Regions from separate parts of the Homo sapiens genome. Here regions 1 and 3 are each linked to region 2. The links come from fine-mapping of genetic effects on gene expression. Tissue or cell type: whole blood. Region 2 holds a variant in brackets; each other region holds the start of a gene. All regions are shown on one strand. Distances are from middle to middle.

What was found. PIP is the estimated chance that this variant, and not a neighbour inherited with it, causes the effect.
Region 1: it holds the start of DENND1C, and the variant in region 2 is fine-mapped to the expression of DENND1C in whole blood (TOPMed, PIP above 0.99).
Region 3: it holds the start of SLC25A23, and the variant in region 2 is fine-mapped to the expression of SLC25A23 in whole blood (INTERVAL, PIP above 0.99).

What each region holds. Positions count from the first base shown.
Region 1 is chr19:6,479,285-6,485,239 of GRCh38, reverse strand. DENND1C (DENN domain containing 1C) reads left to right here and starts at 3,453. Exons shown (of 23, transcript NM_024898.4): 1 at 3,453-3,561; 2 at 5,189-5,253; 3 at 5,338-5,381; 4 at 5,522-5,571. The coding sequence starts at 3,545. RefSeq lists enhancers at 2,968-3,262, 4,859-5,358.
Region 2 is chr19:6,499,268-6,506,947 of GRCh38, reverse strand. TUBB4A (tubulin beta 4A class IVa) reads left to right here and starts at 4,639. Exons shown (of 4, transcript NM_006087.4): 1 at 4,639-4,792; 2 at 5,325-5,433; 3 at 5,551-5,661. The coding sequence starts at 4,736. RefSeq lists enhancers at 1-154, 2,116-2,255, a cis regulatory region at 1,761-2,238 and silencers at 4,383-4,652, 4,663-4,842, 5,013-5,122. The variant C/T (reference allele first, on the strand shown) is at 4,357.
Region 3 is chr19:6,457,161-6,463,115 of GRCh38, reverse strand. SLC25A23 (solute carrier family 25 member 23) reads left to right here and starts at 3,324. Exons shown (of 10, transcript NM_024103.3): 1 at 3,324-3,643; 2 at 4,792-4,918; 3 at 5,526-5,613. The coding sequence starts at 3,488. RefSeq lists silencers at 2,633-2,812, 3,323-3,462, 3,513-3,572.

The DNA of each region.
Region 1 (5,955 bases), 21 kb after region 2:
CCAGGTTCAAGCGATTCTCCTGCCTCAGCCTCCCAAGTAGCTAGCTACATAGCCACGCATGGTGGTACAGATCTGTAGTCCCAGCTACTTGGGAAGCTGAGTCAGGAGAATCACTTGAACCTGGGAGGCAGAGGTTGCAGATATTTTGTCATAGCAGCCTTAATTTTTTTTTTTTTTAACATAGAGTCTTGCTCTGTCACTCGCTGGAATGCAGTGGTGCAATCAAAGTTCACTGTAGGCTTGAACTCCTGGGCTCAAGTGATCCTCCCGCCTTAGCCTCCCAAGTAGCCGGGACTACAGGCGCTATCACCACACCTAGCTCAAACCTCTTTTTATTTATTTATTTATTTATTTTTATTTTTTTATTTTTTACTTTCCCGAGACAGAGTCTCTCTCTGCTGCCCATGCTGCAGTGCAGTGGTGCAATCTTCACTCACTGCAACCTCTGCCTCCTGGGTTCAAACAATCCTCCCACTCAGCCTCCCAAGTAGCTGGGACTACAGGTGCACACCACCATGCCCAGCTAATTTCTGTATTTTTTGTAGAGACGGGGTTTCACCATGCTGCCCAGGCTGGTCTCAAACTTCTGCCTCAAGCAATCCACCCCCCTCAGCCTCCCAGAGTGCTAGGATTACAGGTGTGAACCACTGCACCCTGCCAGAGCCACCGCACTGGGCCTCAAGCCTCTTTTATAAAGGCATTAATCCCACTGTTGAGGGTGGATACCTCTTGACCTCATCACCTCCCAGAGGCCTCACCTATTTTTTTTTTTTTTTTTTGAGACGGAGTTTCACTCTTGTTGCCCAGGCTGGAGTGCAATGGCGCAATCTCGGCTCCTCTTACTACTGCCTTGGGGCTTTAGGTTTCAACATACGAATTTTGGAGGGACACATATTCGGACAATAGCACATGTCCATCAGACTGTGTGAGGATGTGGCTGACGGGATTCTGACTCTGTATGTGTCCAGTGACTGTGGGTACGAGGTGTCTTCTTCTTCTTCTTCTTTTTTTTTTTTTTGATGGAGTTTTGCTCTTGATGCCCAGGCTGGAGTGCAATGGCACGATCTTGGCTCACCACAGCCTCCGCCTCCCATGTTCAAGCAATTCTCCTGCCTCAGCCCCCTGAGTAGCTAGGATTACAAGTATGTGTCACCACCACACCCGGCTAATTTTGTATCTTTAGTAGAGACGGGGTTTCTCCAAGTTGCCCATGCTGGTCTCAAACTCCCGACCTCAGGTGACCCGCCCACCTCGGCCTCCCAAAGTGCTGGGATTACAGGTGTGAGCCACCGCACCCGGCCACGAGGTGTTTTCACACCACACAGTGGTCTGAGTCTGTTGGCAGGATTTCATGTGTAGGTGTGACCCTGACTATATCATGTTCTGTTTTTGTGCCTGCAGATATGTTCACATATCCTGTCTCAACATGACTACGTCTGTCCACCTGTGTGCCTGTGTCTTTTTTGTTGTTTTTGTTTGTTCCTGTGTTTGTTTGGAGATAGGGTCTTACACCGTTGCCCAGGCTGGAGTGCAATGGCACGATCACAGCTCACTACAACCCCCACCACCTGGGCTCAAGGGATCCTCCCGCCTCAGCCTACAGAATAGCTGGGACTACTGCACCTGGCTAAAGTTTTAATTTTTGTAAAGATGGGGTCTTGTTATATTGCTCAGGCTGATCTTTAACTCCTGGCCTCAAACAATCCTACCTCAGCCTCCCAAGGTGCTGGGATTACTGAGCCACTGCCTCCAGCCCCTGTGTCTTTCATAGTCTGCAGCACGGCTTGAGTGTGTCGGGCTGTCATGAGTATCTGGCTGTCATGTGAGTCCAGCTGTGTCTCTCTCTGCATGTGGCCGGGTCTTGGCTATAACTATATCTGGTTATTACTTGAGCTATGTCTGTGCTGTGTTTCCATCTATCTGGGTCTATTTCTCTGTTATTCTGTTTGTATCAATGGCTGTGGTCTCTGTGTAACTGTTTATTGTGTCTCTGTCTGTCTCTGCATTTGTTTGTTTGTTTGTTTGCTTTGTTTTTGTTTTTGTTTTTGAGATGGAGTCTCACTCTTTCACCCAGGCTGGAGTGCAGTGGCACGATCTCGGCTCACTGCAACCTCTGCCTCCCGGATTCAAGTGATTCTCCTGCTTCAGCCTCCCAAGCAGCTGGGATTACAGGCACATGCCACCATGCCCAGCTAATTTTTTGTTTGTTTGTTTGTTTTTGATTTTTTGAGACAGAGTCCTGCTCTGTCGCCCAGGCTAGAGTACAGCGGCGCGATATCGGCTCACTGCAAACTCCGCCTCCCAGGTTCAAATAATTCTGCCTCAGCCTCCTGAGTAACTGGGATTACAGATGCCCACCACCGTGCCTGGCTAATCTTTGTATTTTTAGTAGAGACTGGGTTTCACCATCTTGGCCAGGCTGGTCTCGAACTCCTGACCTCGTGATCCACCTGCCTCAGCCTCCCAAAGTGCTGGGATTACAGATGTGAGCCACCGCACCTGGCCTGTATTTTTTTTTAATTAGAGACAGGGTTTCACCATGTTGGCCAGGCTGGTTGCAAACTCCTGACCTCAAGTGATCCGCTTACCTTGTCTTTCTGCGCACAATGGGTGTGTAACTGTGACTAAGTTGTTTTTTTTTTTTTTTGAGACAGGATCTCACTTTGTTGCTCAGGCTGGAGTACAGTAGTGCAATCTTGGTTCACTATGGCCTCAAACTCCCCAGGCTCAGGCGATCCTCCTGACTCAGCCTCCTGGGTAAGCTGGGACTATAGGTGCGTGCCACCACCGCCAGCTATAATTTTTGTAGCTTTTATAGACACAGGGTTTCGCCATGTTTCCCAGGCTGGTCTCGAACTCCTGGGCTCAAGCGGTCCTCCCACCTTGGCCTCTCAAAGTGCTGGGATTATAGGCGTGAGCCACTGTGCCCGGCCTGGGACTATGATCCAGCTGTAGGACTCCCTATCTCTCCATGTCTGTCGTCTCTGGCTCTTCTGCACTCGGTTTGTCTGTGCTGATGACTTCCTGAGCGTGTAACTGTCTGTGTCTGTGTCTGTCTGTCCGTCCCTGTGCCTGTACTTCGTGCTCTTTGTCCCCATCCCTGGCCCCCCCACCGTCCACTTTACAGGTGGCTCCCTCTGGTGGTCCACCAGTGACCGTCCAGGCCAAATGGACCAAGGGAAAGAGACGGGGAGGCATTTCATTAATAGACAGACTGTGAATCTTGGCTGCTGCGGAGCGGGGAAGGAGAGATGAGGGCCCAGGCACGATGGGGGGAACCAGACACAGTCCAGCCTGGCGGGGACGGAGCTGGGGGTCTGCCTTCCCAGGCTGACCACTTATTGCCCACCCATCCCCAACATAATTAGCAGGCAGGATGCCTGGGTTTCTCACGGGGGTGGGGGCAGGGCCTCTGTCCGGGGACGTCACCCGTTAAACTTCCTCTCTCAGCCACACAGGAAGCTGAGCCGGCTTGGGGCCCAGCATACACAGGCCCCCAGGACCCCTGGGGAGAGGGCCCCGCTGGGCTGGCCCTGCAGGGACCATGGAATCCAGAGCTGAGTAAGAGCCACCCCATCCCTCATTCTCTGGTACAAGATTCCCGGGCCAGGCCTGAGCCGGGGCAGAGGGGAGCTGGGGCTGGAGCAGGCCCGGGAGGTGCAGTGACCTGCCAGGGCAGGTGGCTGGAATCAGATACTCCATGGGCCTCCGCTATGACCTTCACTCTGGGACAGGCCACTCTCGGTCCCCTCCTCTCTCTCTCTCTCTCTCTCTCTATCCAGCTCCTGTGATTATGTCTATAGCTCTGTGAATGCATGTACCCCTCTGAGCTTTGTCCTTGGTATGTCTGAGTGATGGCTTCAGGGGGTCCACAGGGCGGATGATCAGGGCAGAGGGGAGGCTGGGTGTTGGTATGAGTGGGTGATCGTGTGTGACTTGTGTCGGCGTGAGGGTGAAGTGCTGGGGTACCCATGGTGGGGACTGTGTGTGCAACTGGGCGGGACAGTGTGTGTGCAGCTGATCTCCCTCTAGATCTCCCTGTCTCTCTCCTTGAGCCCAAGGCTGCCTCTTCTGCTTGATATGGGGGCAGAGGAGGAAAGCAGAGATTGCAGGGCTTACAGTAAGTACCTAGGTATCCTGCCCTCCTTTCTCTGATGAGACATGTGGGACCAGCCACGAGGGTTCTATGGGGTCTCACACACAGAGACACACAGCCAGCCCACAAGGATCCCACGCGGTTACCCAGTGACACTCACAGCTGTACAGGAAAATATAGATGTCATTCACTTGCTCGGGCACACACACTCACATCTATACAAGAAAATATAGATGGCATGGCTAGATGCAGTGACTCAAGCCTGTAATCCCAGCAATTTGGGAGGCTGAGGCGGGCAGATCACCTGAGGTCAGGAGTTTGAGAACAGCCTGGCCAGTATGTGAAACCCTGTCTCTACTAAAAATATGAAAATTAGCTGGGCGTGGTGGCGGGCACCTGTAATCCCAGCTACAGGGAGGCTGAGGCAGGAGAATCGCTTGAACCTGTGGGGTGGAGGTTGCAGTGAGCCAAGATCGTGCCACTGTACTCCAGCCTGGGTGACAAAGCAAAACTCCATCTCAAAAAAATAGATAGATAGATAGATAGATAGATAGATAGATAGATAGATAGATAGATAGATAGGTGGGTGGGTGGATGGATAGGTGGGTGGGTGGGTGGATGGATGGATGGATGGATAGACAGAGACAGACAGACAGACAGATAGATGGATATATATATAGAGAGAGAGAGATGTAATTCACTTAGCTTGGGACTGCACGGGCTGTCCTTCATATCTGTGCAGTCTCATGCCACAGATATAGGAGACAGTCTCATCTTTTCAGGCAGACAGCAGACAGGATCACACACACACTGCCTGCTCACAAAAGCCATGCACTCAGCCACACACAATCATACACAGCCACACACACACAGTCACACTTTCTCACTCCATCCTGTACTTGTGTGTTCAATTAACACTGCTGCACACACAGCCTCACACAACCACACACTCACAGCCACAAACCCCCAGAGTCATGCACATGCCGACGCACCTTGTGGCACATGCACACACAACCACACTTGTGTGCAAAGTGGCAGACACAACCACACATGCATAGAAGCAAGTCTCTGGACCCCTTCTGCATCCCACAGAGGGGGCTCCCCTGCTGTGTTTGATTGGTTCTTCGAAGCGGCCTGCCCTGCCTCCCTGCAGGAGGGTGAGTTGGGAGCCTGGGAGTGAGGGAGTGGGAGGGGAGGGTGGGCCTGGGTCGCTGAACTTAGAGGCGTGCTCTCTTCTACAGATCCCCCCATCCTGCGGCAGTTCCCTCCAGACTTCAGGGACCAGGTATTCAGGCTGGCTCCTTGCTCCCCCAGGGCGAGGGCCAGTCTCCCAGGGGGAGGGGACTTGGTTTCTTGGACCTGGAGCCCAGGGAGGTGGTGCCCGACCTCAGTGGCCAAGCAGTCTGCGCTTTTCTTCACCTCCAGGAAGCTATGCAGATGGTGCCTAAATTCTGCTTCCCTTTTGATGTGGAAAGGTACGGAAGGGCGGGGAGATCCAAGGACTCAGGGACTCAGATCTCTCAGGGGCCCCAAGGACTCAACACCTAGAGACTCAGACATCTGGAAACCCATACACTCGAGGACCCTGAGACTCAGAGACTCAGACACTCAGGGGCCCTGAGAACTAGGGACCTATATACATTAGCATCCAGGGACTCAGACACTCAGGGACCCAGAGATCTAGGGACTCAGGAACCCAGGGACCCAGGGACCCAGGGACTCAGAGACTCAAGGACTCAGGGACACAAGGATTCAGGGACTTCGGAACCCAGAGACTCAGAAACTCAGGGACCAGGGACTCAGGGACTCAGGGACTCAGGGACTGAGGAACCCAGGGACTTAGGGATTCAAGGACCCAG
Region 2 (7,680 bases):
ATACAAAAATTTGCTGAGGGTGGTGGTGCACACCTGTAATCTCAGCTACTCAGGAGGCTGAGGCAGGAGAATCACTTGAACCCCGGAGTTAGAGGTTGCAGTGAGTTGAGATCGTGCCACTGCACTCCAGCCTGGACGACAAGAGCAAAACTCCGTCTCCAAAAAAAAAAGAAGTATAGGTGGGGAGGGGTTTTGGAGGGTTTTTGTTTTTTTTTTTTTTTTGAGATGGTGTCTCACTCTGTCGCCCAGGCTGGAGTGCAGTGGCGCAATCTCGGCTCACTGCAAGCTCCGCCTCCTGGGTTCACGCCATTCTCCTGCCTCAGCCTCCTGAGTAGCTGGGACTACAGGCGCCCACCACCACACCCAGCTAATTTTTTTTTTTTTGTATTTTTAGTAGAGATGGGGTTTCACCGTGTTAGCCAGGATGGTCTCGATCTCCTGACCTCGTGATCTGCCCAACTCGGCCTCCCAAAGTGCTGGGATTACAGGCGTGAGCCACCGCGGCCGGCCGTTTTTTAAAGCCACTGTTAGGTGTGGGTCAGAGAAACCTTAGGATGCCTTCAAGATTGTGCTGGAGCTGTAAAGAGTGCTAAGCCAAATTACTTTCCTATTGGAGCTATACTATGCGAGTAAATAAAAAATCATTTGCTGGCCAGGCGCAGTGGCTCACACCTATAATCCCAGCACCTTGGAAGGCCAAGGCAGTGTCTCACGTGTCCGTGTGAAGAGGCCACCAAACAGGCTTTGTGTGAGCAACAAGGCTGTTTATTTCACCTGGGTGCAGGCGGGCTGAGTGGGAAAAAGGAGTCAGCAAAGGGTGGTGGGATTATCATTGGTTCTTATAGGTTTTGGGAGAGGCGGTGGAGTTAGGAGCAATGTGTTGGGGGCAGGGGTGGATCTCACAAAGTACATTCTTGAGAGTGGGGAGAATTACAAAGAACCTTCTTAAGGGTGGGGGAGATTACAAAGTACATTGATCAGTTAGGGTGGGGCCGCAACAAATCACAATGGTGGAATGTCATCAGTTAAGGCTATTTTCACTTTTTTTGTGGATCTTCAGTTGCTTCAGGCCATCTGGATGTATACGAGCAGGTCATAGGGGTTACAATGGCTTAGCTTGGGCTCAGAGGCCTGACAGGAAGGAGGACCACTTGAGCCCAGGAGTTTGAGACCAGCCTGGGCAACATAGCGAGACCCTGTCTCTACAAAAAATGCAAAAATTAGCCAGGCCTGGTGGTGCCCACCTGTAGTCCCAGCTACTCAGGAGGCTGACGTGGGAGGATCACCAGAGCCTGGGAGGTCAAGGCTGCAGTGAGATATGATCACACCACTGTACTCCAGCCTGTGCAACAGGGTGAAACTGTCTCAAAAAAAAAAAAAAAAATGGCGGCCGGGTGCAGTGGCTCACGCCTGTAATCTCAGCACTTTGGGAGGCCAAGGTGAGGGGAATCACCTGAGGTCGGGAGTTCAAGACCAGCCTGACCAACATGGAGAAACCCTGTCTCTACTAAAAATACAAAATTAGCCGGGCGTGGCAGTGCATGCCTGTAATCCCAGCTACTCGGGAGGCCGAGGCAGGAGAATCGCTTGAACCCAAGAGGCGGAGGTTGAGATGAGCAGAGATTGCACCACTGCACTCCAGCCTGGGCAAGAAGAGCGAAACTCCATCTCAAAAAAAAAAATAGCTTGCTAAAAAGATAAAAACATACATACACACATACTAACTGAGTTGAGGGAGAGAGAGTATATAAGTCACAGAAGCTAAGGGATCGCCCCACCAAACCCATATAAGGTCTAGCCCCTCTGGAATTTATTCTGGCATCTAGTGTGAGCGAAGGGGCTAACACAAATTTTTTCCCAAAATAATTAACACAGGATTTCTCAGCCTCAACCCTGTTGACATTGGGCCTGCATCATTCTCTGGGGTGGGGCCGTCCTGTGCACTGAAGGGCTTTCAGCAGCATCTCTGGCCTCCACCCACTAGATGCCAGTAGTGCACACATAGTCTCACACACACATCCCCGCCCCCATCTGGGTACGACAACCAAAAATGTCTTCAGATATTGCCAAGTGTTCCCTGGGAAGGCAATATCACCGCTCCCCCGCCCCCCCGACACACACACACACACACACACACACACACACACACTCTCACACACACGCTGTTGAGAGCCACTGGTCAAATTTAGTGGTCATTGGGCAGGGCACGATGGCTCACATGTGTAAACCCAGCACTTTGGGAGGCTGAGGTGGGAGGATTGCTTGAGCTCAGGCGTTGGAGACCAGCCTGGGCAACATAGCAAGACCCCCATCTCCACAAAAAAATACAAAAATTACCCAGGCATATTGGTGCATGCCTGTAGTCCCAGCTACTCGGGAGGCTGAGGTGGGAGAATCACTTGAGCCCAGGAGTTCGAGGCTGCAGTGAGCCATGGCCATGCCACTGCACCCCAGCCTGGATGACAGGGCAAGAAATTAAAAAAAAAGAATTTGCTGGGCGCGGTGGCTCGCGCCTGTAATCCCAGCACTTTGGGAGGCCAAGGTGGGCAGGTCACGAGGTCAGGAGTTCGAGACCAGCCTGGCTAACATGGTGAAAGCCCGTCTCTACTAAAAATACAAAAATTAGCTGGTCATGGTGGTACGTACCTGTAATCTCAGCTACTGGGGCGGCTGAGCCAGGAGAATGGCTTGAACCCAGGAGGCAGAGGTTGCAGTGAGCCGAGATGGCACCACTGCACTCCAGCCTGGGTGACAGAGCAAGACTCTGTCAAAAAAAAAAAAAAAAAAAAAAAATTAGTGGCCATGGCAAATGTGAGGTCCCAACCACATGGCCAAGATGGCTTACCCCACCTCCCACCAGCAATACACCAAAGTCCTTGAGTGGGAAAGTCAAGGATGGGAGGCGAGGAGGAGACTTCCTGGGAGGGCGGGACTGGAGGCTGTCCAAGGAAGCAGCCCCAGGAGGCTTGACCTTCACATGAGGGGCAGCACAGGAAGTCCAGTCCAGCCTCTGATAATACTTAGACTCGAGAAAGATACAATTTATTGTTGACTCTGCAGGAGGGGAGACTATCGCCACCTTGTTAACTGGGTCATCGCATAATCAGACCCTGGAGGGTGGGCCTTCCTCACCACCCCAACTTGCAAATGTGAAATTCAGACACAGAGAGGAGCACCAGGGCAAGGTCATACACCTAATGCTACAGGAAATGCAGAGGCAAGGGAGATGGTGGGTAATAAATTATAATACTGAGCTGGGCGCAGTGGCTCATGCCTGGAATCCCAGCACTTTGGGAGGCTGAGGCAGGAGGATCTCTTGAGCTCAGGAGTTGGAGAGCAGCCTGGACAACATAGCGAGACCCCATCTCTACAAAAAATCTTGAAAATTAGCCAGGCGTGATGGCATGCACCTGCAGTCCCAGCTACTTGGGAGGCTGAGGTGAGAGGATTGCTTGAGCCCAGGACATTGAGGCTGCAGTGAGCTATGAGCATGCCACTGCACTACAGCCTGAGGGACAGAGCAAGACCCTGTCCGAAAATATATATATATAGGCCGGGCGCGTTGGCTCACGCCTGTAATCCCAGCACTTTGGGAGGCAGAGGTGGGCAGATGGCCTGAGGTCAGGAGTCTGAGACCAGCCTGAACAACATGGAGAAACTTTGTCTCTACTAAAAATACAAAAAAATTAGCCGGGCGTGGTGGCACATGCCTGTAATCCCAGCTACTCGGGAGGCTGAGGCAGGAGAATCGCTTGGACCTGGGAGGCTGAGGTTGTAGTGAGCCGAGATTGGGCCATTGCACTCCAGCCTGGGCGCCAAGAGCGAAACTCTGTCTCAAAAAAAAAAAAAAAAGGGTATAGATATAGATAAAGATAAATTACAATACTGGAGAGGAGGGGTGTTATTTTGGGAAAGCGAGGCAGCCCTGGGGACTCACTGTCCCCCTCCCAATATGAACCCAGCTGTCTTACTCCTCCACTCTCCTCCTTAGGCCAGGCTGGGGGTGACCCCACCTGGGACGAGCTCAATGCCCAGTAGAGGTGTACCAGGGGAGCCCACCAGCATCTGCACCCAATCATGGGAGGAAAATCGTGGTTTTACTATGCAGCTTCAGGACAAGCCCTCCAGGAACCTACCGCCCCCCACCCGCAAACCAGATCGCCGCTCCGGAGCCCCCAGCCCACTGGGAGGGCTCGCGGTTACTGCAAGGATTCTGGCGAATGAGGTCTAAATAGAATGAGAAGGGGGGCTGCGGACCGAGAAACTGAGGCAAGGCCTGGGGCGGGAGGGTGGAGGCTAAGGGGGAGGGGCAGGACTTCTCAGATGCCTGTTTACCAGGCGCTCCCCTCCCTTCCT[C/T]CGCCCAATTTCTGCGGGTGGCCAAGCCTGGCTGGGGGCTGGGACGGGGGAGACTGCACTGGTGGCTCCCTAAGGGGCCTCACCCCCAAGGCAGGGGTCGGAGCACGTGGCGTCCCGGACTTCTCTGGGAGGCCCCCTGGGGAGGGAGGTCCCTGCACCACCTCCCCCCACCCCAGCCCCCTCCATCATCCCGGGGCGGGACCAAGGGGCGGAGCGGGAGGGTGACCGGCCGTGACGCGTGCCCCGCCCGCTCATATAGCGGCTCCCGGGGGCGCAGGGACCGTGCTCCGCCGTCTCCGCCGCATCTTCCACCCTCGCCGCCGCCGCAGCTCCCCGCGCTCGTGCCACCGCCGCCGCGTCCACCCTCAGCGCCACCGCCATGCGGGAGATCGTGCACCTGCAGGCCGGCCAGTGCGGCAACCAGATCGGGGCCAAGGTGCTCGGGGAACGGGGCCCGGGGAGGCAGTGGCGGCCCCGGGGAGCACCGCGGGGTCGGTCCCCGGAGCACCCCGCAACCTGGGAGTCTTTGGAAAGGAATGAGGTCCCCAGGAGGCCAGCGCGCCCCAGGGGCCTTGGGGGAAGGGTCGCGGGGTGGGGGTGGCAGGGCCAGACTGGGAACAAAGAGGCTGCGGAGAGTGGGAGCCAGCCTTCTGTCCGCCTGTCACAGCTGGGCCCACAGCTGGGCCACTGTCCCCTCCTCACGCACAAAGAGCCCCGGTGCCTCCCCCGGGCTGCAGCCTGGGTGCGCTGGCACCAGCCGGCCCCGCTGGGTGCTGACTCGGCTGCACCCCGCCCCCACCGCTCCTTCTTGCTGCCTCATCCTCGCCCCGACACCATGCCTCTAGGTCCCCCGTTCACCTTGCTGGGGGAGAGGTGGCAGCTAGGGAGCTAGTTGGGGGCTGGGGGCAGTCCTCGGCTTGGCCACCGGCTTCCCCTCTCTCAACTCTTCCGACCACCTCTCTCTCTAGTTTTGGGAGGTTATCAGTGACGAACATGGCATCGACCCCACAGGCACATACCATGGGGACAGTGACCTGCAACTGGAGAGGATCAACGTGTACTACAACGAGGCCACAGGTAGGGCGAAGGAGGCACCTTCCAGGTGGGAAGGGGCAGCTGGGAGGGAACAGGATGCTACCGGGCGCCTGTGGTTCCTGGCACGCATCGAACTGCCCTCCATCTGTTTCCCTGCAGGAGGAAATTATGTCCCCAGAGCGGTGCTGGTGGACCTGGAACCCGGCACCATGGACTCTGTCCGTTCTGGCCCCTTCGGTCAGATCTTTCGGCCGGACAACTTCGTGTTTGGTGAGTCCCCCAGCAGGGAGCCAGAGGCTGGAAAACCTCCTTATTCCTGCTAACACCACAGAGTCAACAGCCACCACCGGGGCCCACAGACCAGAGATGGGGTGGACAGGGCACCAGGCACCAGCCCTGCATCCAGGGCTGTGATGAGGGGATGCTCAGGCCACTGTGAGAGCCCTGAGGAGGGCGGATACAGAGAAGGATTCAGGGAAGTCTTCCTGGAGGAGGTGGCATTTTAATTCAACGGTCTGAACCGGAACCAGACTGCCTGGGTGCACATCCCAATTCTGCCACTTCATGCATTCAACAAACAGTGAGCACTCACTGCATACCAGGCCCTGTTCTAGAAGCTGGAGATCCAGGTAAGAATCAAACAGCCGGAGCTCCCTCTCTGCCCCAGTGCAGCTCCCATTCTGGTAGAAGGTGATAGGCCACAAAGGAGATAAATAAGTAAAGCTCTGCCAGGGGTTGATTCAGATGGATAACTTAGGATGGGCTCCTCAGCCTTTCTGGGCCTCAAAAATCCTCTTTTTTTTTTTTTTTTCAGACAGGGTCTGTCTGTCCTGCTGTCACCCAGGCTAGAGTGCAGTGGCATGATCACGGCTCACTGTCACCTCCACCTCTGGGCACACGTGATCCTCTTGCCTCAGTCTCCCAAGTAGCTGGACCTACAGGCATGCACCACCACACCCAGCTAATTTTTTAGTTTTCTTTGTAGAGAGGTGGGTCTCTCTATGTTGCCCATGCTGGTCTCAAACTCCGGGACTCAAACGATCCACCCAACTCAGCTCCCAAAGTGCTGGATTACAAGCATGAGCCACCTTGCCCGGCCTCCTCGTCTTTAAAACAGGGATTTCACTGGGCATGGTGGTTCATGCCTATAAACCCAGGACTTTGGGAGGCTGAGTCAGGAAGAGAGCTTGAGGTCAGGAGTTCGAGACCAGCCTGGGCACCATGGTGAGACCCTGTCTCTACAAAAAGAAAAAAATTTTAATTAGCTGAGTGAGGTGGTGTGCACCTGTAGTCACAGCTACTCGTGAGGCTAAGGTAGGAGAATCACTTGAGCCTGGGAGGTTGAGGCTGCCATGAGCTATGATGGTGCCACTGCACTCCAGCCTGAGCGATGGTGTGAGACCCCATCTCTAAAAAAGATCAAATAAAACAGGGATTCTAAAATGCTATTAGAATTGTGAGGCTCAGGGTGGGCACGGTGGCTCACACCTGTAATCCCAGCACTTTGGGAGGCCGAGGCGGGTGGATCACCTGAGGTCGGGAGTTTGAGACCAGCCTGACTAACATGGAGAAACCCCATCTCTACTAAAAATAAAAAATTAGCCAGGCATGGTGGCACATGCCTGTAATCCCAGCTACTCGGGAGGCTGAGGCAAGAGAATTGCTTGAACGGCAGAGGTTGTGGTGAGCCAAGATCATGACACTGCACCCCAGCGTGGGCAACAAGAGTGAAACTTCGTCTCCAAAAAAAAAAAAAAATTGTGAAGCTTAAAGTCATGAATATGTGTAGAGTTTAGAACAATGCCTGACACAGAGAAAGAGGTAAATAAGCATTTGTCGTTGTTTTCATTACTATCTGCAGTCTAGAATGTGAGTAGGATTTGGACTGGCCAAAGGGCATGGAAGGGAGGAAAGATGTTTAAGACGGAGGCAACAGCATATGTGAAGATAGTGGGGTGTCCACACCCTGGGACAATCCTTCCGGGAAAGCTTTCCTGGCTCCAGCTGGCTGCATGTCCCCACCCTGGCTCCACCCGCCTCCAATACTCCCAGCATGTAAGACGTGCTAAATGCAGGACCTGTCCTGCCTCTCTGAATCTTTTCCGCAACTCGCCTCTTACTTCCATTTTACAGGTGAGAAAACAGAGGCACAGAGACGTTAGGTCACTTGCAGAAAGTCACACTGCAAGCCACTGGGGCTGTCAGGAGCCAGAGGAGAGGGTCTGACTACTAGGTCCACGCTTTTTTTTTTTTTTGAGACGGAGTCTCCGTTGCCCAGGCTGGAGTGCA
Region 3 (5,955 bases), 43 kb after region 2:
CCGAGATTGCACCATTGCACTCCACCCTGGGTGACAAGAGTGAAACTCCATCTCATAAAAAAAAAAAAAAATCTGCATTGAATCACAGCTATACGAAATATAGCCAAGGCTGGGCATGGTGGCCCACGCCTGTAATCCTAGCACTTTGGGAGGCCGAGGCAGGTGGATCACGAGGTCACGAGTTCGAGACCAGCCTAGCCAAGATGGTGAAATCCCCGTCTCTACTAAAAAATAATCAAAAATTAGCTAGCGTAGTGGTGGGCGCCTGTAATCCTAGCTACTTGGGAGGCTGAGGCAGGAGAATCGCTTGAACCCTGGAGGCGGAGGTTGCAGTGAGCCGAGATCACGCCACTGCACTCTAGCCTGGGTGACAGAGCAAGACTGTCAAAAAAAGAAAAGAAATATAACCAAATGGATACATACCACCAGGGTGGACAGTATCTCTATAGAACACGCCTGCATTATCATCACAAACAGCTAACTAAGGCACTCTGATGTGGAATAGACCTGTTTTAGGAACATATCTGCATGGCTCACCTATGAAATGTACGGCACTTGCATTGGGGGAATTCCTGGGTGTCAGTGTCTTGTAAATACCTGTATGAGACACACCTGCATTTACGTAAACCTGTATGGGACTCGGTTGTATGGAAACATACCCAGATGGGTGTATACTTAACTGAAACACACCTACGGGGCGGGAGACTGTAGAATGCATTCATGGGTGGAGGGAAACCTGCTCAGAAACATACCTGTGAGGTAAGAGAAAGCACCTTGTAGGAGGAACACCTGTATGGAATTGAGCTCAAGTGAGGGGAAGAACTTGGAACATCTGCACGGGGCACACTCACATTGACACACATCTGTGGGTAAAACCATCAGGGCAGGGGCTCACATACACTGAGGCCCACCTGTCAAGAATGTATCTGTGAGAAAACACCTATTTAGGGGCACTTACATGGAAAAAAACCTCTGTATCACTCCATGCTGTATGGCACCTGCAAGGAACAACTGTAAATGAAAACCTCTGCTGGGGAGCCTCTTAGAAGAGACTCATTTGTCTGGGGCACACCTGTTCCAGCACACCTGTCTAGGCAGAGGCTGGGCGTGAACTAAATATGCCCTCACGACTGTATCTTTGTTTTCTTTCCTTTTTAAAAAAAATAATAATAATTATTATTATTATTTGTAGAGTTGGGTGTCTTGCTATATTGCCCAGGCCGGTCTCAAACTCCTGACCCCAAGCGATCCTCCCATCTCGGCCTCTCAAATTGCTAGAATTAGAGGCCTAAGCCACCGAGACCGGCCAATGCTGTATCTTTGGATAAAGGATGATGATAATAACAAGACCCCCTCCTGAGGACCCTTGGGTGACAAGTGATGATTAAAGAATAATTAGGCCAGGCCGGGCGCGGTGACTCACGCCTGTAATCCCAGCACTTTGGGAGGCTGAAGCGGGAGGATAATCTGAGGTCAGGTGTTCGAGACCAGCCTGGTCCACAGGTGAAACCCCCCCCCCCCGTCTCTAATAAAAATACAAAACTCACGGCTGCGGTCGGGCATGGTGGCTCATGCCTGTAATCCCAGCACTTTGGGAGGCCGAGGCGGGCGGATCACGAGGTCAGGAGTTTGAGACCAGCCTAACCAACATGGTGAAACCCCGTCTCTACTAAAAATACAAAAATTAGCCGGGCGTGGTGGTGTGCGCCTGTAATCTCAGCTACTTGGGAGGCTGAGGCGGGAGCATTGCTTGAACCCGGGAGGCGGAGGTTGTGGTGAGCTGAGATCGTGCCATTGCACTCCAGCCTGGGCAATAAGAGCGAAACTCCATCTCAAAAAAAAAAAAAAAAAAAAAAAAAAAAAAAAAAAAAAAAAAAAAAAACTCACTGCTGCGTGCGATGGCTCACGCCTATAATCCCAGCACTTTGGGAGGCTGAGGCGGGCGGATCACGAGGTCAGGAGTTCGAGACCAGCCTGGCCAACATGGTGAAACCCCGTCTCCACTAAAAATACAAAAATTAGCTGGGTTTGGTGGCGGGCGCCTGTAATCCCAGCTACTCGGGAGGCTGAGGCAAAAGAATCGTTTGAATCCGGGAGGCGGAGGTTGCAGTGAGCCGAGATCGCGCCATTGCACTCCAGCCTGAGCAACAACAGCGAAACTCCGTTTCAAAAAAAAAAAAAAAAAAAAGATAATTAATTCTTTCTAGGGTATAGAGTGATGGTTAAGGATCCCAGATCTCTTTAAACCCTGTTTTGCCCCTTAGTGGTCATCAGGACTGGGGAGAATGACTTAACCTCCGCTTCCTTATCTGCAAAGTGCGAACGCCAGTACCACCTACCTTATAGGGTTTTGGCAAAGACGACTCGAGAGGTGAGTAAAAGCCCTGGCATGTGCAAAGCACTGAATCAAAGTGAGATTTGTTATCGAGTATTCGCTGTCAAGTGGTCTGGGCTCCCTTCCCCCTAATGGTGGATCGAGAAACTGCGCCCGAAACTAGCAGTAGGGACATTCCGCAGGTGCAGCGAGTGCGACAGGCTGGGGCCCTGCCTCCAGCGCTCGACCACTGGGATCCTCAACCCCGCGCCCGGGTCACTGAGCCACCCCCTCCCCACGCCGCTCAGCGTCTGATTGCGGCCGCGGCCCCTTTAAGATCTCCTGGCAGGCGGTGGGACTGCGGGCTGGAGGCAGTCGGGGGTCTGCGGGGAGGCCCCGCCTAGGTGGGAGAAGAGGCGGGGCGGGCGGGCTCAGCCCAGGAGGCGCTGACCAATAGGAAACCGACTTTGCAGCCGCGCCGCGCGTTGATTTTCTGTTTCCCAGTCAGAGTGGGAACCGAGAAAGGAAGCGCGCGGGCGGGAAGAAGGGACAGTGGGAGAGCATCGCTCCTGGATCTTCTGTTTCTGCGGCCGAGCGGGGAAGGTGTAAGGCGCGGGCGGGCAGAGAGCGAGCGAGATGGTGCACGGTTCTTGCGTGCGTCTGGGAAAAGCGAGAACTTGAGTTCCTGAAGATTAGTGGGTGTGGCGGGGAGGTCAAGTGGAAGGGGATTATGAAACCCAATCCCCGACAGCGCTCTACCTTGCCCCCTTGGGCAAAGGGGGAAAGGGTAAACTGAGGCACGCAGAGGCGGAACTCTGAAACCAGACCTGAGACCACTGAGCTCCCTAGCCCGTCTTCCCAGAAGGAACTCTGGTGTTCCTCGGCTGTGCAATACCAGACCATCCCAGACATTCCCTCCCCACGCCCCCAGCTCCGCCCTCGGTCCCCTCCCCCCAATGCAGGTCGGGGGAGGAGACGCAAGTTCTGGCGCGGGCGGCGACGGCTAGCCGTCACCACCTCCCGCAAGTGCCAGAGCCGAGCGGACTGCGCGGAGGCTGCGGAGCCGGCGGCCGCGGGAGCTGACCCTGCGGGGTCCCGGGGGGGGAGGGGGAGCCGCGAAGCCCCCACTGAGGCCGCCGCTGCCGGGCCTCCCCTCCCCCCCGGGCGGGCGCCATGCGGGGGAGCCCGGGCGACGCGGAGCGGCGGCAGCGCTGGGGTCGCCTGTTCGAGGAGCTGGACAGTAACAAGGATGGCCGCGTGGACGTGCACGAGTTGCGCCAGGGGCTGGCCAGGCTGGGCGGGGGCAACCCAGACCCCGGCGCCCAACAGGTACCCCCACCCCCAGGGACCTCCTCCCCTCCCGGCCCCGCCCGCTCCCGGTTACCCAAGCCCCTGAACTGGGCGGCCGGAGCCACCAGGGACTACCTGTGGCTGGACTCCAGAACCTGTGTCTCTGTCTCGTTCCCCCTACCCACTCGTGTTTGGCCTAACGGGATCGCTCAAGACAGGGACGCCGAGGCCCCAAGCCTGCAGTTCCGCGGCCAACACCCGATCCCCCTGCTGCGGGGCAGGGGGCGTCTGCCTGGGAAGAGATGGGGGCGCTTTCCTGCCCACTGCCCGGGACACACCCTCCTCCAGACTGCACAGCCCATGACGTGCCCTGCTCTCACCTCCAGGAGACACACCCTCCATCCTCTGGGCACCTACTGCCCTGGCCTGCAGCTGCCCCGATCCCTGTGTTTACATTCCCTGGCCTGCCCTTTCATGGGCCGTTCACGGGCCTGGCTCACTGTCCCGGGCTGCCCCAGCCAGGGACCCAATCCTGTCTGCGGTCACCCGCAGCTGGGAATGCACCTATAACAAGACTTTCCTCCCGCTGCCCCCACCTCCACTTTGCAGGTCCTTCCCACACCTGTAGCCCCAGATCGCTCTAAGAGAACCACAGCAACCCTGAGAGCAGTCCAACCTCCCACTTCCCAAATGGGAAAAACCAAGGCCTCAGCCACTCCGCTTGGTTCTCTCCTGCCCCACATCGCCCAGGGCTTCCTCCAAAGGGAACCCCTGGGTCCCCCATGTGGACAGGGTTTTTTAAGAGGCAGCTGGGTTCAACAGGAATGAGATACCTAAAAAAATAACAAAAACTAAAAACAAGAGACAGCTGGAAGGACAGGCTTTACAGATGAGAACTGAGGTTACCATTTCCTGGTTCTGTGACCTTGAACTGGTGACTTGACCTTGCAGAGCCTCAGTTTGCTCACCAGGAAAACTAGACCACTCACACCCACCGCACAGACCTGTGGTGGCTGTAGGGATCTGGCTGAGAAGTTAGCTGACTGAGGGAGAAGTGGGGTGACGTCTTCTATCCCCTTCCTCAAGGCGCTGGGGGCTCTGGGTTCCTAAGGCATAAGGTGACATGCGTCCCCTCCAGATCAGGAGCAGGTTCCTGGAGCCACCTCTATCCCCTTTCCCTCTGTCAGGGTATCTCCTCTGAGGGTGATGCTGACCCAGATGGCGGGCTCGACCTGGAGGAATTTTCCCGCTATCTGCAGGAGCGGGAACAGCGTCTGCTGCTCATGTTTCACAGTCTTGACCGGAACCAGGATGGTAAGGTCGGGCGACCTGCCTGCAGGCCCCAAGGGATAGGGCTGTGGGGGCCCTAGAGACATCAGTGGGGTTAGAACTGGCAGCGCTAGGAGGAGAGGGGGAGGGCCGCTTCTCCCCGATGACTCATAGGCTATTTCAGGAGCACTCCTCACCCCCTAGCTAGGTGGTTCGAGGCCCAGCCAGCCCATCCCACCTCCTTTCCCTACTGGGGCAGAACCCCGATAATTACCCTTAGATTTTTCTATGGGGCAAAGATACCCTATGCTGTTCCTGGGTCCCCTGTGGGACAGAGATCCCCTCATAGCAGCATCTGGGTTGTGGATATTGCCTCTCAATCCCCCATGGCATAGAGACCCCTACAATTACCCCTGGATTCCTTCATTCATTTACAGAACAGAGAAGCCCCCCCAGTATTTCCCAGTTCCACCTCTCTGACCCCAGTGAGTCAGGGGTCCCCCCACAGCCCTACTGCAAACCTCCTCCTAGGTTTCTGGAGCCCCTGATCTTGCTAGACCACCTCCATTCCAAGCTGTTCTGATCCTTGGTCCTGGGGTTCCCCAGGTGTCCTCACACGCACATCCTTCCCCACCTCCGGCCCCCTCCCCAGGTCACATTGATGTCTCTGAGATCCAACAGAGTTTCCGAGCTCTGGGCATTTCCATCTCGCTGGAGCAGGCTGAGAAAATTTTGCACAGGTGAGTCGCTGGGGGTCTGGAATCCAAAGTAACTCAGGACACAGTGACCCCTTGGCCATCTCTGTCTTCTGGGCTCCAGACCCAGTCCCAAGGAGGATACAGCTGAGAGGTTGGGGCTTTGAAGTCAGACAGATCTGGCCAGGCGCAGTGGCTCACATCTGTAACCCCAGCACTTTGGGAGGCTGAGGCAGGTGGATCACCTGAGGTCAGGAGTTGGGGACCAGCCTGGCCAACATGGTAAAACCCCATCTCTACTAAAAATACAAACATTGGCCAGGCGTGGTGGTGCATGCCTGTAATTCCAGCTACTTGGGGAGGCTGAGGCACGGGAATCCCTTAAAC